Linked DNA regions of Homo sapiens. The protein of the gene in region 1 interacts with the protein of each later gene in a pairwise test. Each region holds a gene or a part of one and is shown in the gene's direction. Other genes may lie near its edges. The genes, in order: SHOX and SOX5.

What was found.
Region 2: the proteins of SHOX (region 1) and SOX5 interact in a two-hybrid assay, tested with the Homo sapiens proteins (one study listed by IntAct).

What each region holds. Positions count from the first base shown.
Region 1 is NC_000023.11:647,577-652,168, forward strand, and holds the end of SHOX (short stature homeobox protein), read left to right. Parts: 3' UTR 1-4,008; downstream 4,009-4,592. UniProt on the Homo sapiens protein: Controls fundamental aspects of growth and development.
Region 2 is NC_000012.12:23,533,401-23,540,698, reverse strand, and holds part of SOX5 (transcription factor SOX-5), read left to right. Parts: intron 1-4,029; coding exon 4,030-4,246; intron 4,247-6,176; coding exon 6,177-6,480; 3' UTR 6,481-7,298.

The sequences.
Region 1 (4,592 bases):
TGGTATTTTTAGTAGAGACAGGGTTTCGGCCTCCCGAGTAGCTGGGATTACAGGCACCTGCCACCAGGCCTGGGTAACTTTCTGGTATTTTTAGTAGAGACAGGGTTTCAGCCTCCCGAGTAGCTGGGATTACAGGCACCTGCCACCAGGCCTGGGTAACTTTCTGGTATTTTTAGTAGAGACAGGGTTTCGGCCTCCCGAGTAGCTGGGATTACAGGCACCTGCCACCAGGCCTGGGTAACTTTCTGGTATTTTTAGTACAGACAGGGTTTCAGCCTCCCGAGTAGCTGGGATTACAGGCACCTGCCACCAGGCCTGGGTAACTTTCTGGTATTTTTAGTAGAGACAGGGTTTCGGCCTCCCGAGTAGCTGGGATTACAGGCACCTGCCACCAGGCCTGGGTAACTTTCTGGTATTTTTAGTAGAGACAGGGTTTCGGCCTCCCGAGTAGCTGGGATTACAGGCACCTGCCACCAGGCCTGGGTAACTTTCTGGTATTTTTAGTAGAGACAGGGTTTCGGCCTCCTGAGTAGCTGGGATTACAGGCACCTGCCACCAGGCCTGGGTAACTTTCTGGTATTTTTAGTAGAGACAGGGTTTCAGCCTCCCGAGTAGCTGGGATTACAGGCACCTGCCACCAGGCCTGGGTAACTTTCTGGTATTTTTAGTACAGACAGGGTTTCGGCCTCCTGAGTAGCTGGGATTACAGGCACCTGCCACCAGGCCTGGGTAACTTTCTGGTAGTTTTAGTAGAGACAGGGTTTCAGCCTCCCGAGTAGCTGGGATTACAGGCACCTGCCACCAGGCCTGGGTAATTTTTTTGCATTTTTGGTAGAGACAGGTTTTTGCTGTGTTGGCCCGGCTGGTCTCAAACTCCTGACCTCAGGTTGACCTGCCCGCTTTGTCCCTCGCAAAGTGCTGGGATTACAGGCGTGAGCCACCGCACCTGGCCTGAATCTGAACTTTTAAAAGGGAGTTACTGACTCTCAACTGTGCGGGGACGGTTTCAGTTTGATTTAATATGGAAAGAGGGCCAAGTGTCATCCTCACAAATGGGTCCCCGAAGCAGATCAAACGCAGAGAACTGTGAGGGTGGGACACGAGTGTCTGTGGACACTGGCTGCCTTTGGCTTTTCTCCTGCGAGAGAAGTTGGGTGACTTTCTGTAGGTGGATGAGTGATCCCTGAATGAGTGTGGGGTACGTGTATGCTAGCTGCTTCTTTCTCCCTGAAACTCTCGGATGGAAGGAAGTAAGAAATTCAGCTTGGGCTGTGACCAGTTCTCACCACCAACGCCCTCTTCTCTCTCCCTTCTCCTTCCTTCCTTCCTTCCTTTCTTTCTTTTTCTTTCTTTCTCTCTTTCTTTCTTTTCTTTCTTTCTGTTTCTTTCCTTTTTATCTTTCTCTCTTTTTCTTTCTCTTTTCCTTTTTTGTTTCTTTCTTTCTTTTTCTTTCTTTCTTTTTCTTTCTTCTTTCTTTCTTCGATGAAGTCTCACTCTGTCACCCAGGCTGGAGTGCAGTGGTGCAATCCCAGCTCACTGCATCCTCTACCTCCTGGCTTCAAGAAATTCTCCTGCCTCAGCCTCCCAAGTAGCTGGGATGACAGGCACCCACCACCATTCCCGGATAATTTTTGTATTTTTTAGTAGAGACCGGGTTTCGCCATGTTGGCCAGGCTGGTCTTGAACTCCTGACCTCACATGATCCACCCGCCTCAGCCTCCCAGAGTGCTGGGATTACGGGGTGAGGCACCGCGCCCGGCCTCCTCTCTCTTTTTCTGAGATGTTTAGGAAGGACTGGGCTGATGGGGACCCTCTGTATGTGATGTGCGTGGGTTTGGTTTCCCGGAAGGCCCTCCAGAGACACGTTTGCGTGAACATTCAGCATGGAAACAACATACGTCTCTCCACAGGAGGTGAGAAATTGAATTTATGGGGTGGGTGTACGCTGGCGATTCTTGGTGCTTTTTGCTCAAAACAAGGTTCTTTTGAAAGTCACGTTCCTGCTTTCCCTGTGGCTTCCCGGTGAGCTCGCTCGCAGAGCAAGGAATACCACCCAGAGAGCAACGTGGGCTGTGTTCCGATGTAACGCCGTTGCAGAGAGAGGATTTGGTGTGTGAGATCCGTACCAGCTCCAGCACACTGATAGGAACACGTTGCTGGCCGAACTGAACGATGCTGGGTTGGGTCCTGATTGATACGTATTTTCTTCCCTCCTCTCCCCAAAACTTGGCCAAATAGTCCGTGGAGGGTTGTCAGTCGCCGCAGTTGAGCAAAAAACACTTCTTCCTTTGAGTGGCTGTTCTGGTGAAATCTGTTTCTGACATATCCACTTTTCTCTCTCTTTTCTCTCTCTCTGACTGCGAAGCACCCACAGGGAGAAGGAATTGGATGTATCGGATGTTGCTATTAGATTTTCTTTCTCCGTTCGAGTCTCTGACTGGTGCATACTTTGCAAAGGTGTGTTCCTGGCAATTGCCAAGAGTTAGAAAAATGCACCTTCTCTGGTGGCCGTTGGGGTGTTGTTTCACAGGCAGTGGTGACAGGGCCCCTTGGCTGTGGCTGTCTTCTCCAGCGCCGTGGATAAAGAGATGGGACAGATTCTGTGCCTCTGTACGATTTAGAGCGTAACTGACCGCGTCCAACACCCGTTTTTCCACTTACAAAGCTGGTGGTGCGACGGGCTTGGTGTCTCCCGTACGGGAAGGAGGCCTTTGGGCCGCTCCAAAGACGCCCTGTCGTAGGAATGGCCTCTCCATCCCGCCAAAGTCCAGCCAGGCCCCCGAAATGGTCCCATTTCCTTGGAAGCCTGAGTTTCTGTTCTGGTCTTGCTGCTGTCCTTGGCCACGTCAGCACGTGGGAGCATCTGTGGATACCGCAGAGTCTGGGGACAGCTGGGCGTTTAACCGAAATGAAGCCGAGACGGGTTTCAGGTTTTGGTGCCAAGCTCTGGTCAGGATGAAAGGGAAATACCAGAGTCCTCTGTCCTCGCCTCTGGGTTTCATGCTGACCTTTCTAACATTTGTTTTCCCCTAAGAACAAGCAGAAGCCTCCAGCTCCCTTTAGCTCCACAGTTTTCCCGGGGACATAGCGAGGATGGCACACGGCAGCCACTCCCACGACACACATTTCGGAGGCACTTTGCTGGAAGCCGCTTGTCTCCTCCAGCTTTGGGAGGTCTGGGGAGGAGAGAGGCTTTCGGTGGACACGTTTGACATTAAAAAAAAAAAAAAAAAAAAAAAAAAACTGGTGCCTAATTTATTAAAGAGAATTAGCTTAGCGAGTATATGCTGATATTCTTCGACACACGTGGGTAAGTTGATGCCATTTATAAATGTTTTATTGAAATTTGATATTTAATGAGAAGCCGGTTAAGGAATGTAGACAATATCCCGTTTCAAAGCTATGAAATGTGCTATTTATTGAAAGGGGATGTGGCTTCACGAGTTCAGCCCATTGTACGTGCAGGTCCCGTGGGAAGGAGGCAAAAGCCCCTGCTTCTTACTTTGTGATGTATGTGCATTTGTTATTTATTTTTTTTTCCTTGGTCGGACGTTCATAAATATGTACTATTTTAATTATGTCGAGTGTAAATTTGACATCGCGTTGCATTTATTTTTATATTTCTGAAAACTGTTGCTTTTTCTTTTTCCCTCCCCCATTGACGACATAGCGGCCCCCGCGTCCGGGTTACAAATACATCTACAGATATTTTCAGGGATTGCTTCAGATGAAAACAAATCACACACCGTTTCCCAAACCAACAGTCTTCACATTTCTATCCCTCTGTTATTGTCGGCAGGCGGTGAGGGGTAGAAAAAAAACAAACAAACAAACAGAAAAAAAAACCAAAAAAAACCACCCTGAGTTTCTCTGGTGACGCCCTCATTCTCCTAACGTTCAATAATCTCAATGTTGAGTTGCAGCAACAGACTGTATTTTTGTGACGCCCCGTAGTATGAATGTACATCTTGTAAAACTGAGATATAAATAAACTTATAAATATTTGTATTCAAGTGTTAAAAAAAAAAAAATTCTCAACCTCTCCCCTGAGGACAGGCTTATTGGAAAAAAAAAAAAAAAAAAAAAATCCTGAGTCGGCCGTGGCTGAACACAGAGTGTTGTTCTGCTCCGTGCATTTCCAGGGTGGGTACCCAGTGTTGCCCCCCAGCCTTAGATCGGGAGGTACCATTGACTTTTGCTTGTATCCCATCCCCTTCCTTTACTGAAACCTACCTCCCCGCTTCTCAGCCAACGTCCCCCCAGAAGGTGGCAAAAAAAACAGAGGAAAAAGCCCTGATTTGAATCAAGTCAGAGCTGCTAATTCTCCACTTTCTTTAATTAATTAATTTATTTTTTTTTTTGAGACTGAGTCTCGCTCTGTCGCCCAGGCCGGAGGAGTGCAGGGGCGCGATCTCGGCTCACCGCGACCTCCGCCTCCCGGGTTCAAGCGACTCTCCTGCCTCAGCCTCCCGAGTAGCTGGGATGACAGTCACCTGCACCACCGCGCCCGGCTCATTTTTGTATTTTTAGTAGCAATGGGGTTTCACCGTGTTGGTCAGGCTGGTCTCGAACTCCTGACCTCGTGATCCACC
Region 2 (7,298 bases), on another chromosome or scaffold:
CATAAGGAATCACCTTTTACTGCTTGGCGCTAGATCAGGGGAAGAGGGACATCTTTTTCTGATTAGATATACAGTAGTTTAGTTGGAGTAAAATGTGCAAATTCACTACAGACCCCACGGAGATGACAATGTTGCCCAGCGCAAACTCTTCACTTTCAGTGTATTGCCAGATTTAGAAAGGAAAGGAATAATCGTTGGACCTTATTTTTTCCCCTATTTTGAGCATCAAATACTTTTGATTGAAACTTCCTCTTTTGTCATCAGGAGGAAAACCCAATTGTCCTTCTCTGCTTTTTATTATTATTATTATTATTATTATTATTATTATTATTATTATACTTTAAGTTTTAGGGTACATGTCCACCATGTGCAGGTTAGTTACATATGTATACATGTGCCATGCTGGTGTGCTGTACCCATTAACTCGTCATTTAGCGTTAGGTATATCTCCTAATGCTATCCCTCCTTCTCTGCTTTTTTATTCTAAAACGACAACCTTTTGAAAGCAGCAGGGAATGAATAAACTCCCTGTACATCAGTCCAGAGTAAGCAGCCAGCCACCCCCAAATCAAGTAGATATTTTTTCTCTCTTTTTTTTTTTTTATTGTTGTTTATCCAAAATATTTTCCTGCCATTCTCATCAAGTATGTTTCAGGGGTTAGTTAACACCTCAGCTGCATACAATGGTTATAGTACCTGCAAAGCCATTGAAATCAAAACCAAACTTGTCAGTTGGTTAAGCTAATTCAAGGTTACTATTTTGAAAATGAAAACTGGATTTACCACCAAATGGAAACACTGCCCTGTACTGTCATAAAATATAGTAGTCAGTCAGCCATTTGACCCGGTTAGTACTTAGCCTATCTTTATTCTTAGTTTTGAAAAGACTTGGAATTATTATATGGCCATATTTTAAAGTGTAATTTAGGATTCAGTGATACTCTCAAAGAAATTATACTATCAAGAGTTAAACTATTTTATAATTCCCGTTCATGCCAGATTTGGAAGCCAACTTATCTGAGAATTTACACATCTTTTATTATCCCATTTCTTTACATACACGCATCTTTTTTTCCTCTTTTTTTTTTTTTTTAAGCCAGACCAGCTTTCTTTAAGTTAGTCTAACTCCTCTTTCCACCGAAAGACCTCAACTATTATATTCTTCCTCAATAGGATGCTCTTCTCTTTGTGAGCCCCACGGGAGTCATTTCTACAGCAAAGCCTTCCTGACCTGCAGAGGATTGATCTTGCCTCATCATATTCTCTTACCTTCCTGTACTTTCTACAACTATAAGGAAAATAATAAATTTTGTAATTAGATATTTAATGTATATTCCCTGACTGAATATAAGCTGCAAAGAGACAGGAACTATAACTTTCTGTATTCACTCACTACTATATATTTATTAAGGAATGAATGCAACATTATGTACATAGTAGGAAATATACAAACAAACAGCTCTCGCATTCCAAGGCAGATTACTTCTAAGCATAAACATTTTCTTTCCTTTGAGAGGCCAAAGCCTTTTGGCGTATAGATCATTTAAACTTAGGGAAGAATCTTTGGCAATTCCCCTTCTAATTGAAAATGCTTGGCCAGGAGTGGTGGCTCACACCTGTAATCCCGGCACTTTGGGAGGCCGAACCGGGCAGATCACGAGATCAGGAGATTGACACCATCCTGGCTAACACGGTGAAACCCCATCTCCACTAAAAATACAAAAAAAAAAGCTAGCCGGGCGTGGTGGCGGGCGCCTGTAGTCCCAGCTACTCGGGAGGCTGAGGCAGGAGAATGGCGTGAATCCGGGAGGTGGAGCTTGCAGTGAGCCGAGATCACACCACTGCATTCCAGCCTGGGCGAAAGAGCAAGACTCTGTCTCAAAAAAAAAAAAAAAAAAAGAAAATGCTGGTTTCGTTTTCGAATTTTGGGATAAAGCTAGCTAATAAATTTTATATTAGATCAACCATCCTTGATCCATTTATCAGTGTATTCCTATTTGTGAGTTATTTATGGTAAGCTCACTTTCCACTCCCTGATCTGAAGTTCAAAAAACTGGTATAAATGCTTGGAAGAAACTCAATGAAAACGGTTGTTCTAGTTCAATAGGATCATAACCATATCTGTGTTTATATAGGCCCTGAGAATAACATAATGGTATTCAAGTATCTTCAGAGAATAATGCTGGGCCAACAAGGAGTTTGAGATTGTCCCTACAAATGATATGGCTTGACCAACCAACCTAATGTTGGATGATGCTATTTAAACAGAAGTTTACGAAAGGAATAGAAAAAGAAACTCTATTATTTGCACTGTAACCTGAGTTTATACTGTAAATAGAATAAATTCACATTGGCTTTCTAGATTTGGAAAAATCTATATTTATACCTATGCAATACAATATCTCTTCCAATGGTAACATTTCTAAGGGAAGAGATATTGCCTCTTTCACTGTATGCTTTAATAAATGTAACAGCCCATATTGAGGAACTCTTTACATGTGTAAGGAAGAACTATTCAACAGTGAGCTATTTGCATTTAAGATAGGGAGTTACGGGTGAGTAATGAACTCATTCGAAAGATTCTAAGATCTTACTTAGATGACATTTGAAGGCAGGTATAAGGCCATTTGGTAGGGATATCCTAGTTCCAGTTTATCGGTCTTTGTGCATTCGCGTTGAGTTGAGATGACTATTTGCAGATAAACACACTTCATCTGCAAATAGATTTTTAAATCACTATTAAAAAAAAAAAAACGCTATTACTACTGAGGGCTGCCAGCACGCTGTCACCTCTCAATCCGAACATCAGAAGGAACAAACTCCGGACACACCGCCTTTGAGAACTGTAACACTCACCGCGAGGGTCCGCAGCTTCATTCTTGAAGTCAGTGAGATCAAGAACCCACCAATTCCGGACACATTACCACTTCTATTACACATAGCCATACTGACAGAATCCAAGTTTTAAACCATATCTAAAATGTGAATTAGCATAAACTATTTTTATTTAAGCTTCAAACTTGTCTTTTTTAATCCCAGCTAAATTCACACCAAAATTAATAGTGAAAAGAAAGGGGGAAAACAATTTGGGTTATTATTACTAAAGCAGACTGTATCATGGGAAGTGACGTCTTTGTATGTTATTGAAATTGATTTATTAAGAGAAAATCGTAATACGCATTTACAGTAATTGTGACCTCTGCTATATTTTGTATAGTAGGTGGCCATATGTAGGAAAGGGCATACATTATAGCACAATTTAAGTTATATCAAATCTGAGTTTGAGTCACAGATCTGTACTTCAGTAATTATGACCCTGGCTAAGTTAGTCCATCTATTTGAATCTCAATTTTCTCATCTATGAAAATAGATAGAAATGCTGTCTCTTTTATAAGATTGAGGTGAAAGGTAGGAAAAAGACATCAGTATGTCAAGGTTTCAGCACAGTGTCTGGCACATAGTAGTTACCCACTCCATGTTTATTAATATTATAATTTTAATTATAATTAAATGTTTAATCAAAGGAATTTTTAATTACTACCATTCCTGTAAGCTTAAAATACTTAAACATTTTGGGGAGGATGAGACTACATGATATATGTTGGGAACTTTTGTAGTAAAAAACATCTCCCACATAAAAATATTCAATAACTAGATAATTAGTCTCAGATTCAAAATGCATGATAACATATCATGTAACTTTTCTGTTCACATGTGAATTATATCATGATCTAATGTAGAAATGAGAAATGTATCCATTAAATTATCTATGAGCTTTAAGGGACATAATACAAAAGTTTGGCTAGAATGCAAACCAGAAAAAAAAAAATACTGCCCAGTGTTTATATCTTTAGGTACAAAACCACCACCACCTCTGTTCTTGTGGGATCTCACTAATCAAAAACAGGTTTATGTATTTCTGGGTTTTGGCTAACATCTCAACTTTAGATTTTCTTGTTCTCAGCCATATCACTTTCTGGAATGCTTAGAAGCTGTGCAAATTGGAATCCTAACCTCCTTTCTTCATAGGATCTCGCTGGAAAGCTATGACAAACCTAGAGAAACAGCCATATTATGAGGAGCAAGCCCGTCTCAGCAAGCAGCACCTGGAGAAGTACCCTGACTATAAGTACAAGCCCAGGCCAAAGCGCACCTGCCTGGTGGATGGCAAAAAGCTGCGCATTGGTGAATACAAGGCAATCATGCGCAACAGGCGGCAGGAAATGCGGCAGTACTTCAATGTTGGGTATGTACCTTTTAGTCATTTTTCTCATGGGGCAAACTTCCTGTTATACTTAATGGGATGTGAAACATATTTGTTCAGTTGCAAAAAGACATTTTGAAAAAGAATCTGAGCTCACAGTATTTTCAGAGACAAATAGTCTCCCACATGATCTTGAAAAATATGTCCATATGAATCCACTGCAAGTTCCTAGCTCTACCATGAGATTTGTTAACAACTGGTTTAAAAACAAGATATCTACAAGCAAATGATTTTGAAGTTTTCTATTAAAAACTTAGAAGTATAACTGGTTCTTTTCTTCATTGGTTTGCATTACTTCCTAAGCTTCACCATGATAAATTCTAAAACTAACAACTTTGTTGAGACAATACAAAATAAAAATCATTTCAAAAGCAAAAATACTTATTTCTAAATATAGAGAGGTTAGTGAGCTATCAAGGTACATGTGTGGCCTTTGTGGATCACACAAGCTAGGGATTATATTTAGGGTGTAACAAGGTTGGGAACAGGAGGTTTCATTCTGAATTGAGAACGCAGCTCCGAGATGTTTTACAATGCTCCCGTGGCAAGGTTGTTGACAGTGCTGTAGATGGGCTACAGAAATGCATTGCTTCTATAGAATTCTCTCAAAAACCCAAAATAAAGTTGTTCATATTTGAAACAGAAGTTAGTTTCTAAGAGCTTCTTAGAATAATAAATATTGTTCTAAATATGGGCAGAGAAGGACTCATAAAACCTTTCCAAATCTGCTCTGTCCCCTCCAGTTCCTTGGAAGAGGCTGCATGCTCTGTCCAGTGGTCTGTGATTCATATGCAAGCACATGACTCCTCACAAAGCTAAACACAATGCCCAACAGTTCTTGGGCAAATAGTAAACATACGAATGAATAAAAACAAGCATAAATGCACATCATCTATTCATCCTTTCCAATAGGACCACCTACATTATTTATAGGACCAGATGCAAAAATGAGGAGACAGGGTCTCTTGTTAAAAAGTTATTAAGAATTTCAAGTCTGTGGCAGCACAACTTTAAACCAAGTATGGGACCTTAGTGCAGTTGCACAGTTTGTACATCCATGAAGCTGCTCCTGCTTCCTACCACTACGAGGCCAGAACTGTTTCAGAGACTCAGTGGACAGTGTGAATTTGTTCAGTTCTGGTGTGTTCTGGGCAGTAAAGTTTTATTTTGAGAACTCTAATGCTTTAGGATTTTCCCATTAAAATTTAATTATCTTTAGATTTAATTCTAGGGAAAAATACTATTTCTGCATGTTATAATGAAAGAAAAATGAACTTGGAATCAAGGACCTGGGTTCTTCTGCTTCATCTTTCTGCACCTCAGTTTTTTAATAAAACAGTAGTAACAAACAGGATTAAGAATAAGATGGACAACACATGTCAATATCTTGTACTCTATAAAGCACTACCTAAACATAAGGTATTAGGCCTGGTGCGGTGGCTCACGCCTGTAATCCCAACACTTTGGGAGGCCGAGGCAGGTGGATCACCTGAGGTCAGGAGTTCAAGACCAGCCTGGCCAACATGGTGAAACCCCGTCTGTACTAAAAATACAAAAGCTAGCCAGGTGTGGTGGCAGGCGCCTGTATTCCCAGCTACTTGGGGGGCTGAGGCAGGAGAATCGCTTGAACCCTGGAGGGGGAGGTTGCAGTGAGGCAAGATCACGCCATTGCACTGCAGCCTAGGCAACAGGAGCGAAACTACGTCATCTCAAAAAAAAAAAAAAAAAAAGAAAAGAAAAGAAAAACAAGGTATTAAAGTTCAAGTAGGATGGAGTTTGAAAAATGTTAGGCAATTAGATAAAATTAGTACCTTAGAATTGGACATTGCTGAGCAAATTAATTATGTAGTAAAGTCCACATCTAACTATTCACTTACCCACGATGTCTTTTTGGAAATTCCTTTCTTGACAGGCAACAAGCACAGATCCCCATTGCCACTGCTGGTGTTGTGTACCCTGGAGCCATCGCCATGGCTGGGATGCCCTCCCCTCACCTGCCCTCGGAGCACTCAAGCGTGTCTAGCAGCCCAGAGCCTGGGATGCCTGTTATCCAGAGCACTTACGGTGTGAAAGGAGAGGAGCCACATATCAAAGAAGAGATACAGGCCGAGGACATCAATGGAGAAATTTATGATGAGTACGACGAGGAAGAGGATGATCCAGATGTAGATTATGGGAGTGACAGTGAAAACCATATTGCAGGACAAGCCAACTGATAAGGGTCAAAAGATTGTTGTGACCTTAGGACTTAAAGAAGCCCTAACTGGTTCATCCTTACCAGTGGCCAAGCACATTAACTTTCTCATACACTGACTGTTACTTTAACTGTTAGTCTTAAATAGTTGGGACATCAGCTGACTAATAGACCTCAGCCTCAAAAGGCTTGGAAAGAAAAAACAAATACAACAAGCAAACAACAATATCAACAACAAGAGATTGAAATAAGCTATGGGTAAAATAATGCCAGTAATTCAGCTGCTACATCCAAGCACTGAAGTCTTACCCGTCAACTTTTTTTTTTTTTTAAATAAACTTTATGGCTGTTTGTTCTACAATGTTCTAGAAATTCTCACTCAGGTACACAGTGCCAACAAGTGGCTTGTGAATGTGTTTTGTTGTTTTGTGCTACAATTTTTAAAAAGAAAAAAGTTTTGTTTTGTTTTTTGGGGTTTCTGGGTTTTTTCCTTTTCTTTTTCTTTCCTTTCATTTTTTTTCTTTGTAATGCACCTGACAGAAAAAAAAGAAAAATGAATTTCTCTTTACTTCTCTCCACCTTCTCCATCTCTCTACTTTAAAGATGGAAGTCTGTGCATGAGGGGAAAGAGGGAAAAAGAGCCTGTTTTTAACTTCCTTGCTATCCACCACAAAATAAGCAATTATTTTCTTTAGAGGACTTTATCTATTGCACACCACACTACATCTTTGAGCAAGTGCCAAATTTGTACTGAAGTGTTGACCAAGTTCATTTTTTCTCTTTACTTTTTCCTTTTCCTTCTTAAGTTAGGACAGTGTTAAATCTTAGACAATCCCTTGA